2 linked regions of the Homo sapiens genome follow. The protein of the gene in region 1 purifies or fractionates together with the protein of each later gene. This does not show direct contact. Each region holds a gene or a part of one and is shown on either strand. Other genes may lie near its edges. The genes, in order: C17orf75 and MVK.

What was found.
Region 2: the proteins of C17orf75 (region 1) and MVK purify together in Homo sapiens (affinity purification with mass spectrometry; one large-scale study listed by BioGRID and IntAct). This does not show direct contact.

Annotation. Positions count from the first base shown.
Region 1 is NC_000017.11:32,335,394-32,339,210, forward strand, and holds part of C17orf75 (protein Njmu-R1), read right to left. Parts: intron 2,959-3,817; coding exon 2,815-2,958; intron 2,562-2,814; coding exon 2,504-2,561; intron 50-2,503; coding exon 1-49. UniProt on the Homo sapiens protein: As component of the WDR11 complex acts together with TBC1D23 to facilitate the golgin-mediated capture of vesicles generated using AP-1. May have a role in spermatogenesis.
Region 2 is NC_000012.12:109,580,283-109,584,099, forward strand, and holds part of MVK (mevalonate kinase), read left to right. Parts: intron 1-1,112; coding exon 1,113-1,268; intron 1,269-3,817. UniProt on the Homo sapiens protein: Catalyzes the phosphorylation of mevalonate to mevalonate 5-phosphate, a key step in isoprenoid and cholesterol biosynthesis.

The sequences.
Region 1 (3,817 bases):
CAAACCAGCTGCTCAGATAGGATTTTATGTGACTCTCCAGGCCCCTTGCCTAAATCAAGAAAGAACATCATTTGCTTTAATATAAGCCTTTCCTTTAGTGGACTTCATATTTTCTTCATCATATCCTTGATGGTGAAAAAGACCAGGATAGACACCTCCCTTTTTAAAGCTAACACCACCAATTCAAAAAAAGAAATTGTGATATACCTTTCCTGGCTTGTTGGGCAGGGTGAGGGTTAAATCTGTACTGAATTTATTTAAAACACACCAAGAAATGCATTCTATAAAATGAAGAGACTGAATAGGGTTCCATGCTATTTCTTCACAGGGAAGAGTTGGGCACTCACAAGTCCCTCTCCTCCCACTGTACTGTGCACTCAATGGAGATACTCACTCAATAATCCTCATTTCCCTGGCACCTGTGGTACAGTGTCTAAAACATGCATAGTATGAGCTTATTAAGTGCCTTTTGAATTAGTCATGTAGATAGAGAATTCATTCGTATTCAGAATGTGAATGGGGAAGGATACAAGTAACTCATCAAAGCACTCCACTCCACTCCAGATGTCAGACATGCTACCGTGAGCACATCTGGCTTTCTAGGCTATACTGCTCCCTGAAGACTAGTGTCACACACGAAGAGCTCTAGTCCGGGAGAACAACTCTATTAGACTTGCATCAGTTGCTCACTCCTGCACTATCCCTTCCTCTCTCCTGCAGTATCTTCTAAGTATGTGAAAAGTATAACTTCTACTATATATGTAATGGGTAGTAAATTTGTGAGAGTCATGACTAACAACTGCTACAAGCTGAAAGCATTGTTTTTGTTTGCTTTTTTGAGACAGGGTCTCACTCTGTCATCCAGGCTGGAGTGCAGTGGTGCAATCATAGCTCACTGCAGCCTCAACTTCCCAGGCTCAAGCGATCCTCCCACCTCAGCCTCCCAAGTAGCTGGGACTACAGGTGCGTGCCACCATGCCTGGCTAATTTTTGTATTTGTTGTAGAGATGGGGTTTCACTTTGTTGCCCAGGCTGGCCTTGAACTCCTGGGCTCAAGTGATCTGCCCGCTTTGGCCTCTCAAAGTGCTGAGATTACAGGTGTGAGCCACCACACCCAGCCAGTTTTTCAAAGGTTTGAATAAGTTGATATGGATATGCCTAATTCATAAAAGATCAATTAATGAAAATAGAATGTTTTTAAGAATCTTTGATGTTTAGTTCAAGAACAGCCATACTATTGCATAGCATGTCTTTGGTGCCAGAGGCTGCATGGACCAGTACTTCTGACCATAATATAAATCTTATATGCCTAGAAATCAGGAAAAGGACATCCTCTTCCTCGCCAGGCATGTTACTACATGCCATTGAATAGATCGAATTTTTCATAGATACAAAACATCAGACGTAGTCTTGTGAAACTTTCAGCACTTACAGGACTATGTTTCCTGTATCCCTTTAAGATCACCTGTAGGCTGGGTGCAGTGGTTCATACCTGTAATCCCAGCACTTTGGGAGGCCGAGGCAGGTGGATTACTTGAGCTCAGCAGTTCAAGAGTTCAAGACAAGCCTGGGCAATATGGCAAAACCCCACCTCTACCAAAAATACAATTAGCTGGGCATGGTGGTGCATGCCTGTGGTACCAGCTACTTGGGAGGCTGAGGTGGGAGGATCGCTGGAGCCCAGAAAAGGCTGCAGTAAGCCATGATCGTGCCACTGCACTCCAGCCTGGGTGATAGAGTGAGACCCTATCTCAAAAAATGAAAAAGAAAAAGAAACCACCTGTAGGCTGGGCACAATGGCTCGTGTCTGTAATCTCAGCACTTTGGGTGGCTGAGGAGGGAGGATTGCTTGAGGCCAGGAATCCTAGACCAGCCTGGGCAACAAAGTGAGATCCCCATCTCGACAAAAAATACCAAAAGTTAGCCAGGCGTGTTGGTATTTGCCTGTAGTCCCAGCTGTTTAGGAGGCTGAGGCGAGAAGACTGCTTGAGCCCCAAGAAGCTGAGGCTGCAGTGAGCCTGATCGCGCCACTGCCCTGCAGCCTGGGCAACAAAGCAAGACCCTGTCTAAAAAAAAAAAAAATTCACCTCTCTACTAGCTCACAAGGTGGCAAGTTTCTAGAATACAGGCGTCTTTGTGTCTACCTATATGATTTGACAAGTAGAGCAATCACAGTATATTAATCATTTCAGTCATTATTTTATTTTTTTAACTCTGTCGCTCAGGCTGGAGTGCAGTGGTGCAATCTCGGCTCACTGAAACCTCTGCCTCCCGGGTTCAAGCGATTCTCCTGCCTCAGCCTCCCAAGTAGCTGGGACTACAGGTGCCTGCCACCATGCCTGGCTAAGTTTTAGTAGAGATGAAGTTTCATCATATTGACCAGGCTGGTCTCTGACCTTGTGATCTGCCCACCTCGGCCTCCCAAAGTGCTGGGATTACAGGCGTGAGCCACTGAGCCTGGCCCCATTTCAGTCTTTAAAAACCATTAAGTCAGTCACCTTACCTCACAATTCATGTTATTTTTCAGCCCTTGAATGTACTTGTCCAATTCAAGCCTGAAAGTATGTTCTTAAGGAAGCAATAAAGGATGAATAATGAAGACAGTATTTCATCTCTCAACAAGAAATATAAAATCTCTCAAATAATGTGAGCTGCAAATGCAAACAAGCCAAGGCAAAATGGCCACATGAAGGTATGAAATTCAACTAAATACACGAGGAGTAGAAAAGCTTTTTGGAGGTTGGTAGTAATATTCTTCCACCTGCCTTCCCATGTTTTCCTTCCTGATGTTCTCAAAAACCAAAGAAAGGATATAGCTCAAGTCCTTTTTCAGACCCTCCTAAAAAACAGACCACATATTCTGAAGGGTTACGTTCAGAGTCTATCGTTACTGTTTCAGGAAGCAGTTTTTCATTTTGGAAAAGGCAGTAATAACAACCAACTCGGTAACCTGGAATTCTAGAAAAGAAAGAAAATGTAAAATGCATTATTTTGGTTACTCATGCATCTATAATTTTGTGGACTGCTCTGAATTCTGGTCATCTTGATCTGGCAACACCATTAAACTGCCCACTAACTCAGAGCTTCCCAGACTTCTCGTTGGTGTACTTGCAGCAGCAAAGAAAAATGAATGTATACCCTGGAGGGCTTTAGTTAAAGCAGCCACTAACATACATGAAATTTCTTTGAATTCTCCTGTCTTATGTGAAAAATTCACACAAATTTCACTCTAGTTCATACCCATGTTTATATTAAAAAAAAGTATGTTCTCCCCTCTCCCAAAGCTTCACAAATTGATGTTTAAGGCAGATGTGCCTGAAGGTGGCCTTATCCTTGGGAAGTGGCCTCAAACTCCTGAGGACCTGTATGCTAACTTCACGGTCTGAGTTGAACTAGAATAAAGAGGTGTAATGGAGGCCGGGCACAGTGGCTCACACCTGTAATCCCAGCACTTTGGGAGGCCAAGGCGGGTGAATCACCTGAGGTCAGGAGTTCGAGACCAGCCTGGCCAACATGGTGAAACCCCATCTCTACTAAAAATACAAAAATTAGCCGGGTATGGTGGTGCATGCCTGTAATCCCAGCTATTCGGGAGGCTGAGGCAGGAGAATTGCTTGAACCAGGGAGGCGGAGGTTGCAGTAAGCCAAGATCATGCTACTGTACTCCAGTCTGGGCAACAGAGTGAGACTCTGTCTTAAAAAAAACAAAACAAAACAAAAAAGGAGAGGTGTAATGGAAAGACAGTTGGAATTGGACTAAGAATGCTCATGTTTAAGCCTGAACTCCATCAATTTGACCAGCCTCATGACTTAAGTT
Region 2 (3,817 bases), on another chromosome or scaffold:
TGTAGAGATGGAGTCTCACTGTGTTGCCCAGGCTGGTCTCAAACTCCTGGGCTCATGTGATCCAACTGCCTTGGCCTCTGAAAGTGCTGGGATTAGAGGCATGAGCGACTGCACCCGGCCCCAGCCTCTCTGTTGTTGTTTTTGTTGTTTTTGTTTTTGTCCAGAACCCAAAGGGAAAAAAACCTCAAGGGGGCAGCCCTTCCCTTGAGCAGCAGATGCTGGCTCAGTGGCCAGGCTCTATGCTGAGGACACATTCGGAAACGGCCTGATACTTGCCGTCCGAAGCAGAATTTCAACTTGAGAGAGGCATGTCCCCTTAAGTGGGTGAGGGGCATTCCAGAATCTTCCAGGCTGGGTGGGGTGGGTACGTGGAATTTGAAGACGCACATTATTACAATTTTTCTATTTGGGAAATGGGAAAAGCACTTCGTGGAAATTACCAAACATGAAGTTTGACAGTTCTTGCTTGGGGGAAATACATGTAAGATGTAGCGATTCGGACCTTTCTGGTGATCAAAAGCAGACCCGTGTTACACATGGTTGGGGAGCACCGTCTGGCGGGAGAGGCCCCGGTGAACACACAATCCTAGTGTGCGGTGGTGAGGCAGCGGTGGAGGGAGGGAGGGCAGGCGGGGGTCCTAGAAGGGGAGCCAGGAGGGTCTTTGTGGGCAGCTACGGAAAGTGTCACAGTGGAAGCGACATTTGATAAGGCCTTGAGAGATGGGTAGGGATTTCTCTGTGGGATAAGGAGGTGCACGGCTATTGCAGGCAGAGGGGCCAGCCTGTGCTCAGAGCAGGCCCACAGAAAAGCCTAGCATGTGGGCACAGGAAGGAGGTGGGAGAAAGGGGTTGACAGCTTGCCAGGTGCTTCTGGGAAGGGCTCTGGTTGAATGACCCAGGGATTTAAATGAACTTGATACCTGTTTTCTAGTTGTCTGATTCAGCATGAGTTCCTGATGTTCAATAGGGATACATTTGGGGTCAGGAATTCTCCCCCAGTTGAGAAAACTGGACCAGATGCTTGGAGTCAGGCCTGGGCCTGGCCCCTGGTTCAGTGCTGGCACCCCACTGCCCTGCGGGAGAGTCACGTTTCACACCCTGGTGTGTTTCAGGGCCCTGCCGAGCCTGGATATCGTAGTGTGGTCGGAGCTGCCCCCCGGGGCGGGCTTGGGCTCCAGCGCCGCCTACTCGGTGTGTCTGGCAGCAGCCCTCCTGACTGTGTGCGAGGAGATCCCAAACCCGCTGAAGGACGGGGATTGCGTCAACAGGTAACCATGGTCCTTACCTGGCCAGTGTCCCTCCCGCACGGCAGGACAGGGACGTGGCTTCTCTCACTGAGACCTCACCACCTCCCTGTGAGGTGAGAGGTGTCATAGTGGCCATTTTAACATGAGGAAGCTGAGCCCCGAGAGGTCAAATGGCTGGCCCAGGGCCACACAGCTAGTGCTGGCAGAGTGGGATTTGAACTCAGAGTCTGAGCTTTTCTCTCCTGCTCTCCACCACCTCTGCTCACCCCCATCTTGGCTCTGTTGGTTTCAAGCGCCCATGGTATGGTAGAAAGAGCTGGAGTCCAGATCTAGAGGGCAGCAGGTTAGATGAACCCTCCCACCTCTGCATTGACTCAGGCTAGGACAGTGTTCTCCTCTGTATGGTAATGACAGTGCCCTAGGGGTGATTGTCCAGTTTTACCACATGGTTATGAAAGAAACTAAGAGTTTGCTGAGAAATCCACATTAGGGGGTGTGCCCATTAGACTAGGGCATCTCTCCTCCTACGGGGCCGTCTCCACGGAGGGCGTGTCACCTCTCTGCGTTCCTATTGACCACGTGAGTCAGTGAGGCCTGTCCAGACAGGCTTGACCACAGACCATTTCTATCATTAGGAGAATGTTCCTTGAGAAACCACCCAGTGCGCAGAGGTTACGCAGTTTGTCCCAGGACCAGGAGTTGTGGATGAGGCCCCCAAATGCAGAGCTCTGTCCTCTTCCTGGGCTTGTTTTTGTTTTGTTTTGTTTTGTTTTCTGAGCTTGGTTTTTTTGTTTGTTTGTTTGTTTGTTTGTTTGTTTGTTTTTTGAGATGGAGTCTCGCTCTGTCACCCAGGCTGGAGTGCAGTGGTGTGATCTTGGCTCACTGCAACCTCTGCCTCCAGGTTCAAGTGATTTTCCACGGGCCAAAGGACTGGCCCTGTCTTTCAAAAGGTGGAGGGTGACTGTGTGTGTGCACTTGCATGTGTGTGTGTTCTTATGCTGCTTCTAACCATTTCTCCCACCTTCCCCTGAAGGCCAGTCATTCCTTCTCAGAACCCTTAGGGAGAGTAGACCTCCCACCCCACCCCACCCCACCACACCCCACCCATCATGTGTTTCTGAGTCGGAAAGGACTGGAGCCCAGTCTCCTTTGAAGACTCAAATCTGAGCCCCCTAAAAAACAAACTGTGTAGAGCAGGAGGAAGACTCACATTTGTTGAGAGGGCCAGGCCCTGGGCTAGGTCAGCTGCCTGAGTTACCTTCCCCCGCCTCCATCACTCACTTCATCCCAGGCACGCTGCCACCTGTTGGTCCCTGGGAAGGGCCAGCCAGCTCTGGTGTGGTTCCAGTGCTGCACAAGTGGTGTGTCTGGAATGCACCCCACACACACACCTTGCCCAGCTGGCTCCCCTTGTCCTTCAGGCACCACCACCCCGCCCCAGCCCCCAGCAATTCAGCCCATCGTACTCTTACAGAAACACCTGGTTTGTTTTTGTTTTTGTTTTTTTAACTATATTATCATTTATTAAATGTAATTAGGTAGCTCTGGATCCTTGGTCTGTTTTTTTTTTCTTTTATTATTATTATACTTTAAGTTTTAGGGTACATGTGCACAATGTGCAGGTTAGTTACATATGTATACATGTGCCATGCTGGTGTGCTGCACCCATTAGCTCATCATTTAGCATTAGGTATATCTCCTAATGCTATCCCTCCCCTCTCCCCCCATCCCACCACAGTCCCCAGAGTGTGATGTTCCCCTTCCTGTGTCCATGTGTTCTCATTGTTCAATTCCCACCTATGAGTGAGAATATGCGGTGTTTGGTTTTTTGTTCTTGCGATAGTTTACTGAGAATGATGATTTCCAATTTCATCCATGTCCCTACAAAGGACATGAACTCATCATTTTTTATGGCTGCATAGTGTTCCATGGTGTATATGTGCCACATTTTCTTAATCCAGTCTATCATTGTTGGACATTTGGGTGGGTTCCAAGTCTTTGCTATTGTGAATAGTGCTGCAATAAACACACGTGTGCATGTGTCTTTATAGCAGCATGATTTATAGTCCTTTGGGTATATACCCAGTAATGGGATGGCTGGGTCAAATGGTATTTCTAGTTCTACATCCCTGAGGAATCGCCACACTGACTTCCACAATGGTTGAACTAGTTTACAGTCCCACCAACAGTGTAAAAGTGTTCCTATTTCTCCACATCCTCTCCAGCACCTGTTGAGAAACACCTGCTTTGAAGTCACATATTGCAGTGTCATGGATTTGTTTGTATTTGAATACTGATCGCTTTCTGACCTTCACTTTCTCCATTAGACTCTAAGCTCCAAGAAGTCAGGGACCTTGTCTGTTTTGCTCCCTACTAGGAGCTTAGTCACAGGCACATAGCAGTTGCTCAATAAATGCTGAATGAATAAGTGAGTGTATCTTGTTGGCACCATTAAGTTAGTAGCTAAGAGCTTGGGCTCCAAGTCAGCAGATGTGGTCCTGACCCAGCAGTGAGTAGCACTGTGATCTCCAGGATGCTGTTTGACCCATCCAAGCCTCAGTTTCCGTTTC